4 separate regions of the Homo sapiens genome follow, and regions 1, 3 and 4 are each reported to be linked to region 2. The links are microRNA targets in miRTarBase. Many come from high-throughput screens and were not tested one by one. Region 2 holds a microRNA gene; each other region holds the end of a gene's coding sequence. Distances are from middle to middle.
Evidence for each region. The annotated mature microRNA hsa-miR-3192-5p reads UCUGGGAGGUUGUAGCAGUGGAA and lies in region 2 at 1,118-1,140, opposite strand. An mRNA with a match to its seed (bases 2 to 7 or 8) in the 3' UTR can be bound and repressed. Matches are read on the target gene's strand: a 7mer-m8 pairs with bases 2 to 8, a 7mer-A1 pairs with bases 2 to 7 and ends in A, and an 8mer does both.

Region 1: the mRNA of CALHM5 is a reported target of hsa-miR-3192-5p. Seed matches in the 3' UTR shown: 8mer at 868-875.
Region 3: the mRNA of MOCS3 is a reported target of hsa-miR-3192-5p. Seed matches in the 3' UTR shown: 7mer-m8 at 2,437-2,443, 7mer-A1 at 2,271-2,277 and 8mer at 1,013-1,020.
Region 4: miRTarBase lists MAPK1IP1L as a target of hsa-miR-3192-5p. Seed matches in the 3' UTR shown: 7mer-m8 at 2,610-2,616.

The regions. Positions count from the first base shown.
Region 1 is chr6:116,515,689-116,518,688 of GRCh38, reverse strand. It overlaps CALHM5 (calcium homeostasis modulator family member 5), which reads right to left. Exons shown (of 2, transcript NM_153711.5): 2 at 1-3,000. The coding sequence ends at 2,700. All of the region lies in intron 3 of TRAPPC3L (trafficking protein particle complex subunit 3L), which reads left to right. Among named protein-coding and RNA genes, the nearest start is that of CALHM5, 5.6 kb to the right of the region's middle.
Region 2 is chr20:18,468,507-18,471,763 of GRCh38, reverse strand. It overlaps MIR3192 (microRNA 3192), which reads right to left and starts at 1,149; the gene lies at 1,073-1,149. POLR3F (RNA polymerase III subunit F) reads right to left here. Exons shown (of 9, transcript NM_006466.4): 2 at 2,703-2,820.
Region 3 is chr20:50,960,064-50,963,274 of GRCh38, reverse strand. MOCS3 (molybdenum cofactor synthesis 3) reads right to left here. Exons shown (of 1, transcript NM_014484.5): 1 at 1-3,211. The coding sequence ends at 3,050. Among named protein-coding and RNA genes, the nearest start is that of MOCS3, 2.9 kb to the right of the region's middle.
Region 4 is chr14:55,064,377-55,067,376 of GRCh38, forward strand. MAPK1IP1L (mitogen-activated protein kinase 1 interacting protein 1 like) reads left to right here. Exons shown (of 4, transcript NM_144578.4): 4 at 240-3,000. The coding sequence ends at 251. Among named protein-coding and RNA genes, the nearest start is that of MAPK1IP1L, 14 kb to the left of the region's middle.

The DNA of each region.
Region 1 (3,000 bases), not on the chromosome of region 2:
TAGAACTTCTGTTTCAGCCTCTCACACACTGCAAAAGAGGCATCGGCATCGGCCAGTTCCTATATGTCTTTTTCCAGCTCAGAAGACACTTAAGGGCAGACAAACTTTAAGTCAAGAAAGATTAAGAAGGAGAACTCTTTGCTGAATTTTCTCTCCCTTTATTCTGAAAACTCTACCCCCTCACATCCCTAATCCCTGTTCTGTCCCTGCCACATACACACACAGACGTCTGACCCTGCACCTCCAAGTTCCCAAAGATATTGTACGTAGAAAAAACAAACCTTTTTTTATTGACATTCACACTCAACACTGAACACTCCTTGCCACCAACTGTGTGGGTTTTCTCCCACACTGGCCAATTCTCCAATACCAACTGGATATCATACAATTCAATTCTGGCATTAATCGGCATTAAGTGCAGATCCCCAGCAGGTTAAGAGCTCAGTCCCATAAGATCTCCCCCAACTTCAGACACCAGTCACAAGCAGTAGGTTCCAAAGTTACTCACATCTTCTATCTGACGTGGCTACAAAGCAGAGGTTCCCATGATTTCCTTCTCAGATTTCACCATTTGCTAGAGTAGCTCACAGAACTCAGGAAAGGGCTTTATTTACTATCATCAGTCTATTATAAAATAATATAACTCAGAAACAGCCAGATGGAGGCACAGGAACAGGTTTGGGGGAAGGGGCACGGAGCTTCCACGGCCCCTTTGGGCTCACCACTCCTCATGTATTGAGCAATGCAGAAGCTCTCTGAACCTTGTCCTTTAGATTTTTATGGGAAGCTTTATTCTTAGGCATGATTGATTAAATCATTATCCATTTGTGATCGACTCAACCTTCAGCCCCTCTTCCTTCCCCAAGGTCTGGGAGTGGGGCTGAAAGTTCCAACCCTCTAAACACATGGTTGGTTCCCGTGGCAACCAGACCCTATTCTGAGGCCATTCAGAAGCCCCTAACTATCAGTCATCTCATTCGCGTACTACCAGACACATCACTTGGGAGGTCCCAAAGGTTTTAGGAGCTCTGCACCAGGAATAGGAAGAAAGACCAAATACATATTTCTTCTTGTAAATGACAATAACATAGATATGTTCTGGGTCCTATACTTGTAGGATTCAGTTTGCCATCATGTTTCATGTTAATAAGAAGTTAATATTCAGCTTTCTCAAACTAAGAGACATAGACTACCACTGTAAGGTATGAGCCACAGCACAAAACATAGTTCTTTTTTAAAGCACAATTCTTCTCAGAGATTTAAGGAGAATTTATGTACATATATACATACACATATATATGTACATACTAACATGGATATAGTACATTGTAGAATGCAAGATTTGCATTATTTCTGATAAATGTAAGACTGCAATGCAGTTTTATGCCAGTACTGCTTTGGACAGTGTCCCCAGACCTTTAGCCAAGGTCAATTTACCCTACTATAGTCTGAATGTTTGTGTCTCCCCCAATTTCATATGTTGAAATCTTAACCCCCAAGCTGATAGTACTAAGAAGCAGAGCCTTGAGAAGTAATTGGGTCATGAAGGTGGAGCCTCCAGGAATGGGATTAGTGCCTTATAAAAATGCTCAAGGGAGCTTATTTGCACTTTCCACCATGGAAGGACACTGAGAAGTCAGCAAGCAGTTTGCAACCTGGAAAATTGCTCTCACCAGAACCTGAGCATGCTGGCAGCCTGACCTCGGACTTCCCAGCCTCCAGAACTGTGAGAAATAAATTTCTATTTTGTATAAGCCACCTATCTATGATATTTTGTTATAGTAGCCCAAACGCACTAAGACATACCCACGGCCTAGTAAGCACTGTGCCTAAGGACCATAATACTTGTAAGGGCCCACTAAAATGTTTTTAATTTCTTTTAAAATCAGAAGAAAATACATAAACTTTTAGGTTGAAGAAAATGCTAATATATTCACCTTTTATCAATGCAGTTATAAATATATATTTCTGTGTGTGTGTATATATATATATATATATATATATATATATATATATATATATATATATTTGTTACTACTATTTTGAATGTAGGAAATGGTTCGCAAAGGCAAAAGTACATAAAGCCCACAAAAATTATGATGCAGCCCTGCTTCCAGGGGAGTATTTTCAGTATACAGTGAAAACATGTGAAAAACTTTCAATTTTAGGTATCATATTCTTGCAACTTGTGATTTTTGAGAACTGAGATCTTCAGATCCTGAGGGAATGAATTCCACAATTTCATACATCCTTAAAAGTGTAGATTTGTAGGACAGAGACTCCTGCTGATCACACTGCAGGAGCCACTGTGTAGGGCAACCTATGTTAAGAGTAACTTGCTCACTCACAAGCCATTGCTTCTGCCCCTAAATTCTGCAACCAATATTTACAGAGACTGATGAGCCCTCTCACATGAGTCTGTCTGTTGAATGATAAAATCTTAGATCTTGGAGCAACATTTAGGCCTACTGAGCCCCTCTCCACCAATGCAAGAGCACCTTTGTCACCCCTCAGCATCAATTTGAGCACATCCTGATGTTCCACTTGAGAGCTTCAAAGCAGTTTCCTTTGTGTTATTGTCTTGTAAACATACTCCAAATGTAAGAAAATACAGAGACACACAGGTTGCTGGTGATACGTTAGGAGGATCACAGAATGAGCATGCCACTCAACACCATGAGTCATTGATGGTGGATGAGCTACATATTGTGGGCAGTACCCACAAGGACCATTGTCGTCTCATCATCCTCAGGGCTAAGTTGCAGACCATTGTCCACCACTCTGTGGAGGGTGCTATAGTGTTGCTGGCTTTGGTGGAAAGAATGCAGCTCTGAAGCAGCCTCCCAGGCAGCAAACGTAGGCATGGGAAAAGGATCTGGCCTCTTGTTTTCAAAAAAACATTTCAGGTTCCTCTCGCTCAGCTTGTTGGCATAGTCCAGAAATGTATTTTCCAACTGCTCCTTCTCCTTTTGTGCATATGTCTTCCAAAAACTCAGCTGA
Region 2 (3,257 bases):
TGATCCGCCTACCTCGGCCTCCCAAAGTGCTGGGATTACTGGCAGGAGCCACTGTGCCCAGCCCATTCCCTTGTTTTAAAACAGACACTCATGACTTGGAAATGGATTTACATACTGAATGAACAGTGACACACTCCTGTTCCCTGACCCCACGAAGTGGCAAAGTAGGACTACAAGGCCCAATCCAGAGGCTCTGGTCATTTATCCAGCTTATGAATATTTACTGAATACTTGTACTGTGCCAGGTGTTATGATAGGTGTTTGGGGGAACAACATTAATTCTAAAAGGGAAACACACAGGTGACTTCAATACCCATCTGGTTGGCATTAAGATAGAGGTAAGTAAAGCCACCCTGAACTCCCAGATTGGGTACTCGGAGAACAGGCTGCGGCCCAACCTGGGGGGGTTCAGTGACTTCCTGGAGACAATGGCAGAGTTGAGTCCTAATGCGTTAGTCATCTGTAAAGAATAAGAAGAACCTTCTAAGCAGGGGAACAACATGAGTCCTGTGGCACGAAACAGCATGATGTGGCCAGAAACCAAAAACAATCTGCTCCTCCTGAAACCTAACTTTTGAAGTAGAGTGGTGGAGATGAGGCTGGTGAACAATGCAGGGACTCAGTGTGGGAAACCCAGGAGTTTGAACTTGAATCTCCAGTATAAACAAATTGTAGGTGGTAGAGTGCCTTGGTCAGACCTGCATTTAAGACAGATCAGGGGCCAGGCTCGGTGGCTCATGACTGTAATCCCAAATCAGGCTGGCTTCTCTGAGACAGATGGAGTCATGGAAACCAGTTAAGATGCTACTGCAGCTGTCCAGGTAAAAGCCATGAGCCTGAACATGATGCAGTACCAGGGATAGAAATGGAGGGGGTGTGGACAGCAAATTTAAGAACTGTTTTTAAGAGCTAAAATCAGAAACATTACATGATTTATTAATAATCACTCCCTTTCTTAATATCCTTTGATAGCTCTACTACTGCCTGCATACAACCTATAGCCAATAGGACTCGCAGTGGGTGGGTGGTGGCAGAGGTGGTAAAAGAGAGGTGCTGAAGATGATTTTCAGTCAGAAGGAAAGAGCTGAGAGGGCGATCAGAGGAAGAAAAGAACTTTTTCCACTGCTACAACCTCCCAGAATCCCTTCCTCTGTCTTTCCTAGAGCTGAAGACCTTCACCACAGTGAAATAACTAGAAATCAGCAACATTCCTTTGTCCTTGGGCTAGAACAGGGGTGAGCAATCTGCTCCACAGCTTGTTTTTATAACCAAAGTTTTGTTGGAACATGGCTGTAGCCATTTGTTTATGTATCATCATCCATGGCTGCTTCTTGCTAAAATGACAGTGTAGTTGTGACAGAAATCATATGGCTCACAAAGCCTAAAACATATACTGTCTGGCACTTTATAGAAAAAGTTTGCCAACTCCTGAGCTAGAAAATTGATGGGAAAGGTTTAAGAAAAGATTCATCGGACCCCAAATCTCCACATCCAGAGCCCTTGGAAATCCAACAAGGCTAGTAGACTTAAAAAACAAATCAGTCATTCAGATGAGGCCTTGGCGTAGAACTCTTTAACCTAACTGCTACTAAAGCCAAACTGAAATGCTCTTAGGAAAAGGATGTTTTGGTGATGAGGGAAAGTAAGGGAGATTTAGAGCATCGGCACCACTTGGTGGGTTTTTAGACAGTCTTGCTTGTTTGTTTCTGGACAGATGGAGAATGGCTTCACTGATAAATTCCATTGCAATGTCACTGGGGGCTAAGGCTGCACTTCCTCCCCAAAGCCCAACATTCTTCATTCAACTGGACTCATTCTTGCTTCCTGAAATGCTCAGAGTGACAATGTGGAGAATGAAACCCTGATGACTGGGCTCTGTGACAACTCATAGGAAAATCGGGGGGTGGAATATTTTATGGGAAATGGCCCAACACCAGCAGTAGGAAGCAAACAGAAGGTGAGAACAGACTAGACCTATGTATGGCAGTGGCAATTAATAAATACAACAGTTATACCATAATACATTTATTTCATTTGTCTTATAACGCATAATTATTTCTTCTTTTTTCAATTCAGGTAGTTTGAGCTGTTTCCTGGTTTAGAGTCTTATCAGTCAAACCTAACACACTTTCTCGTTTTATGACTGCTGTATTAGGGTTCTCCAGAGAAAAAGAACCAATAGGATACACCTCCCTCTTGAAAGATTCATCAGAAGCTATTTGCTCTGTGATTATGGAGGCTGAGGAGTCCCATCATCTGCCCTCTGCAAGCTGGAGACCCAGGAAAGCTGGTGTTGCAGATCAAAGGGCTGAGAGCAGAGAGCTGATGGTGTAGATACCAGTCCAAGTCTGAAGGTCTGAGAACCAGGAGTGCTGAGGGCACAAGATTCATAGCCCAGCTCAAGATTGAATTCAAAGAGTGAATTCAATCTTCCTCTGCCACTTTGTTCTATTTAGGCCCTGAATGGATTGGATGATGCTCACCCAACTGGACCCATATCTACTTTACTCCGTTCACCAATTCAAAATGCTAACCTCTTTCAGAAACACCCACACAGACACTCCAATAAAATATTTAACTAGATATGTAGGAATCCTGTATCTTAGTCAAGTTGACATGAAATTAACCATCACAACTACATAATAAAAACCAGTGATAATCAGCATATCAGTAATTATGCAAAATAGTTAGATTCACCTTACCATAGACAACAACCTATTGATGGCTACTGCCCGCTGCTGGGCTTCTATATGAGGCATTTCATTCTGAATTACTTGGTCTGTGATTCCATGAGGGAACTGGTGACATAATTCTATAATCCTAGAAACAAAGGTATTAATGTTATCCTTCATGGTTACCTGTTTCAAGAGACAGTGGGGGTAAAAATACAAGTAGAATAGTTTGAAACTGTGCCTTTTTCACATTTGGCAGACAATCTGGGTTTCTGTGATGGTTTTGGATCAAAGCATGTTAGAAATTGAAGAAGATGATTTCTAAATACATGTTTACAGTATTATTGTTATTTAAGAATATTTCTTTTCCTCACTAATAAGAACTTTAAATTAGAGCAAAAGTCTAATGAAATCACAGAAAAAATATTAAAGCTGAGACTTCAGTTTTCTCGGGTGTAATAAGCATGACAAAGTTAAGCCATAAATCTGCAAGCAGGAGGCAAATGCAGATGTTTCTGGTAGGAAGCCAAAATTTGTTATGACAATTCACCATAATGGGGCCTGTTTTTGGAATTATACCTACCA
Region 3 (3,211 bases), 32 Mb from region 2:
GCATTTGATGTTTGTTATGAAAAGGAAACAACAAAAAAATCAAGTTCAGGCTGGGCATGGTGCCTCATACCCGTAATCCCAAGCACTTTGGGAGGCTGAGGCAGGAGGGATGCTTGAGCCCAGGAGTTTGAGATCAGCCTAGGCCACATATTCAGACCCCATTGCTACCAAAAAATTTTTAAATTAAAAAATGGCTAGGCATGGTGGCATACAACTGTAATTCAAGCTACTTGAGAGGCTGAGGTGGGAGGATCACTTGAACCCAGGAGGTTGAGGCCACAGCGAGCTGTGATCACAACACTACACTCCACCCTGGGCGACGAAGCAAGACTTCGTCTCAAAAAACAAATTATGTTCAAATCCTATCTCACCATAAAAACCTAGCTACAATCCCCAGAGAAAACCAAATTTCAAATACTAATATATGCCAGGTGCAGTGACTCATGCCTGTAATCCTAGCACTTTGGGAGGCTGAGGTGCACAGATCACCTGAGGTCAGGAGTTCAAGACCAGCCAGGCCAACATGGCGAAACCCCATCGCTACTAAAAATAGAAAAATTAGCCAGATGTGGTGGCAGGTGCCTGTAATCCCAGCTACTCAGGAGGCTGAGGCATGAGAATCACTTGAACATGGGAGGTGGAGGTTGCAGTGAGCCGAGATTGTGCCGCTGCACTCCATCCAGCCTGGGGGATAGAGCGAGACTCTGTCTCCAAAACAACAACAACAAAAAACAAATACTGAAATAGATCTGGGTTGTGTACTGGGTATCTGTTATATTCTTAACAGCCCATCTTTTGAAAAATATTTCACTATTTGGGAAAATCCCACATCATGAGTTCTGTCTTCCTATTGTAGATATCAAAACACAAATTCCCAGCCTCTCTTGCAGCTAAGATGTAGGCATGTAATTAGACTCTGCCTACCAGGCACCCTCATAAGGCTTGACTCAGAAAAGAATAATGTAGTGACTCTGTTTCTCGACACATGGACTGTGGCTGAAGTGTTGGGCTTTCTGGGAGAGTTGGGGGGGCACGTCAAGTGAAACTGGTGAGACTGTAGTGGCGTTTCCTCCGGTACTTGATAGGGCAGCACAACATAGACACTGTTCTCCTAAGGCCAGTTTTGTGCATGATTTCGGGCATCATTCCTAGAAGTACAGCCTTGAATCTGTCCCCAAAATTCTCAAAAGCACCTCCTATCACTTTAGTAAACCTTTTAACACTTAGCTAGTCAGCTTCTCTTGCCTGTCCCCTGTGACAACCAGGTTTATAGGAACTACAACTGTCTATAACTTTAGGACTTCAGTCTTTAGAATATGAAATTGTTCCTGTGTGTCGCTATTTGTTTCCTGCTATGTATCAGAATCAGTTGTCCCTGGAAGAAGGAGATGAAAAACACAGGCCAGCCATCTTTGTTCTCCACTCCAGGTCACAGTCATTTACCTCCATAACTCGTTGGCAGGAACAGTCATAAGAGACCTGCTTCATCTTTATAACAGAAGGGTATACCATACTTTAAGTATACCTGTTCAAAGAATTAGTTACAATGTTTCACAGTTAAAAAGTGATGACTAATTTTGAATTTGTTAAATACCACCCTCTTATAATAAAACAAGATTCTATATCACAAATTGCAAACTGGTAAGTAAATCTGGTCTACAAAGGGTTTTTGCTGGCTTATGATACATTTAAGCTTTAAAAAAAATGGTTAACAGAAATACAAAGATTTTATAGTTGTATCTGTGATTTCTGCCATTCTTAAAAAAACAACAGCAGCAATTGATGATTATAAGCCTGCATGCAGCAAGCAGGAGGTCACAGGCCCCCTTCTGACAAGCCATTAGTTCATCTGGCCACTGATAGGCACTCACAAATCAAATTTTTACTTATAATGTTGTTGTATATATTGGAAGTTGGTGAGACTACCTACTATTTTATGAAAATGTTAAGTAAACAAACATAAAAACATTTTACATTAGTATAAAATGCTGGAATAAAAAAACATTAAATCAAAAGAGAAAAGGCAAATTAAAGGGGGAGAGGCAAAGGGTTGGGACTTTGACTTGAAAATTCCAAAGCAAGTCAAACCATAGTATGCAATTTAAACGATGTGATATGTGTGCAACATAAGGTGGACCCTGAAGTTAACTTTAAGAAAACAGTAGCAATTTATAAGAGACACTGACAGACTACAAAGGTGGTTTCCTTTATTTTGGTAAACTTTAAAGATCTCGGGAGGGTGTGGTGGCTCACGCCTGTAATCCCAGCACTCTGGGAAGTCGAGGCAGGCGGATCACGAGGTCAGGAGTTCGAGACCAGCCTGACAAACATGGTGAAACCCCCTCTGTACTAAAAATACAAAAATTAGCCAGGCGTGGTGGCGTGCGCCTGTAATCCCAGCTACTCAGGAGGCTGAGGCAGGAGAATCGCTTGAACCTGGGAGGCGGAGGTTGCAGTGAGCTGAGATCGCACCACTACACTCCAGCCTGGGCAACAGAGAGAGATTCCATCTCAAAAAAAAAAAAAAAATCTCATTTTGATACTAATTCAAAAGGCCAAATAGAATGACCCTCTTTCTGAATAATTAAAACAATTTACATTTTAAACATGTATTTCTGTAGGATGTATTCTATCATCTGAAATATTAATAAGATCCAAGAATTTCTTAACTGAACAGTAAACAGATCCGAAGTATATAATCTGTGAAAATGATTTAGAAAGCATTTTGACTGGGGGAGGTGGAAAATAAGGACATGTAAATGATCTGCAGTTTAAAATGCAAAATCCTGTCACGTTACATCTCACATGTCCAAGACATCCTCCGTGTGCTGAAAAAAAAAATGATGGTTCTCAGAAACGGTATAATCCATTAATAAGTCATTCATCCAATACATAACAATTTTTAAAACTCCTTATAAAAAGGAGTCCACGTATTCACAGATACTGTAGAATCCCCAGCTCCTATGTATATTACCGAAAAATGCAAACAAGTGTATCTTTGAGGTATTATGGCAATCCACATCTTTCTCATCAGACTATACCAGTCACCTCAGTACTGTGGAAATGTTCCATCGATTTTGGCAGCCCAGGCCATGAGGCCCCCCACAACATCCCGAACTGTTAAAGGGTCTAACTCTTGAGCTGCTGATAAGGACTGGAGGATCTTCACGGCTTTCTGTGAGTCATTTCCCAGTTTGCAAATCACATAAAT
Region 4 (3,000 bases), not on the chromosome of region 2:
CTATAAAGGAAAAGAAATCTTTAAAGTACCCCTAAAACTTCCTCCTTGCATTAGTGTAATTTCTTTCTTGCTATATATATTATCTAAAAATATTTGTTTTGCAAAGTGTATGCCAGAGTAAATGATGTGACTTGCTGTTTGGATTTATTAAGCAATAAATTTACTTTAAGCCACAGTAAGGAGTTAATAAACTCCATTTGCAAAATCTAGAAGTTGACTTTTTCTTTTTTCTATTGCAGTCTTACCATTAAGTTAACAATGGACGAAGAGATGACGCTTTGCTTTTTGAAGTACATGTATATGCACATGAATGCATATATAAAAATTGCTGGTTTCACTATTAGAGGGCATTCATGAAAGAACAACTCTTGCACCTCTCAGAGAAGATAACTGCCTCTTGTACTTGGATGCGTAGTACATCATATGTATACAATCAGATAAAAGCATAGAAGTAAATCATTCGGATGTGATTTTTATTTGGTTTTCATGGAAAGTTAAAGTGATAAAGTATATTGAATAGTTCTTTGACAGAATTTGTTTAAACTATGAAACTACACACTTAAAAATCTAAGATGTGGATTATTGTTAGAATCTGCAACTTCATTGGCAAATTATTTCAAGTATTTTTCTATAATCACTTTCCCCTTCTAAATAAATAAACTTCGAGAATAACCCATCATAATCCAAACAAATGATGCCTCAACATTTTGAGCTGCTCTGTCGGACAAATAAACCTGGTCCTCTTGAGGTTATATTTTGGATATACATTTTTAAACTGTCAGTAATTATTGTCAGATGTGGAGTTCAATAGCCAGCCAGTGTTCATTTTTATCCTTGAGCTTTTAGTAAAAACTTCCTGGTTTTATTTTTAGTCATTGGGTCATACAGCACTAAAGTCTGCTATTTATGGAAACTAACTTTTTTGTTTTTAATCCAGGCCAACATGTATGTAAATTAAATTTTTAGATAATTGATTATCTCTTTGTACTACTTGAGATTTGATTATGAGATGTGCATATTGCTTTGGGAAGAGCTCGAGGAAGGAAATAATTCTCTCCTTTGTTTTGAACCTCAAACTAGATAAACCCTAGGAATTGCTTAACTGCAACAAGTAATTTTCATTCCCACAAAAACCTGAGGCAGCTCTTTTGCCCAGAGCGTTCCCTGTAGCCACCCCCACCCCACTTGCCCTTGGTTCTTTAGAAGGAGCACACACATCCCTTGATTCCTCCCTGATGTGGTAAACTGGCACACTCCAGGGGTCTAAAACATAAAACAGTTGTGTTTAGGGAACCTTAAGTCATGCAGACATGACTGTTCTCTTTGTACAAGTGTGAATCAAAATATGTATCTCTTTTTCAGAGTCTGGTTAAGCTATGTCATTGTCTACTGCATAGTTTCCTGAGTCTGTTTGTAAAGTGCTTATGGCTAACAGTTCAGTTCTGTATTTGTTGACAGGTAAATAAGTGGAGTTGAGTGCCATCTTTGAAAAAATTACCCTCTAGCTCTAACACTGAAAATAATAATAAATTGTAGATCTCTGCAACTAAGTTTAAAGCAGTGTGACTGTGTTGCTTAAATATCAAGTATTGTTTATAACCACCAAAAAAAAAAAGCCCTGGTAGTTTTTTGGCACCTTATGTTTAAATCAGATTCTTAGATTTGGAGTAGACCTGACCTTGTTATTTATTAGATAACATTTTGAATGTATCCATTGGATTTCTAAAATGTATTGTGAATTTCTCAGACAAACAGGATTTATGCTGGAGCTCTGTTTTGCTTAGAAATAAAATATTTAGTAGTTTATTTCTGCTCTAATTAAAATGTCAAGAATGCCAAATGCTGCCAGTTTTTTGGTTTGATAGCTACCTCCTTCTAAGAAAGCAAAATGGTTACCTTTGAGAGGAACATTCAGTGTTTAATCATCCCTTATGTTAACTAGATGATAGATTCAAGCTTTTAGAAATGAGAAAGTAGAAACTAATTTGTTAAGATATTTTCAGACTGCGGAATGTTGTTAGCTTTTTCTTTCACTTCTCTTCAAGGACAGGTGTTAGCTGTCTACAATACTGTTGAACTCTGTTGTCAAAGTAGCCCCCTTAGTCTACAAGGCAGGTAGCCTTGGCTTGAATTATCAATATCAAAATGTCAGTTAACCATGGAGGGATAAAGTAATGTGAAAAGTGAGATGGCTGCAAAGATAGCTCTCCTTACAGTTATTTTGGCTGTCCTACATTGGGATAAGCTGACAAATTAGCAGTATTTAGTTTAACACTGGAGCAAATATAATTTGAGTAGGAAGAAGAGATAGCAGGTTTGGGAATCTATAATTATGAAGTCCATTGATTTTGGGAGAAAATCTGTTGCTAAAGGATTTGAAGGGCCATGAACACAATTTGGGATTATTACTCCCTATAAGTATAATAATTTTGCTAGTGACCCATACTGTCCAGTGTGCCCTAAATCATACTGCTATTGTACTCCCTTTGTTTTCAAGGACTTTGCAACTGGTATTTGGGGGAGATTTTTTTTTTTTTTTGAGACGGAGTCTCGCTCTGTCGCCCATGCTGGAGTGCAGTGGTGCTATCTTGGTTCACTGCAAGCTCCATCTCCCAGGTTCACACCATTCTCCTGCCTCAGCCTCCCAAGCAGCTGGGACTACAGGTGCCCGCCACCATGCCCGGCTAATTTTTTTTTTTTTTTTTTTTTAGTAGAGATGGGGTTTCACTGTGTTAGCCAGGATGGTCTCGATCTCCTGACCTCGTGATCTGCCCGCCTTGGCTTCCCAAAGTGCTGGGATTACAGGCGTGAGCCACCACGTCCGGCCGATTTTTTTTTTTTTTTTTAATGTAAGAATGGAGATAAAAGGGATAATATAATTTGCTTTTATATTGTTATTTTTGTAAAGCATCTTTTCTTCAATTCTTGTTGGCATTCTGGGCCAAAATATTTCAGGTTGGTTCGGTGTGGAGTTAAGAAAAGCAGGCGTTTTAGTGGAGA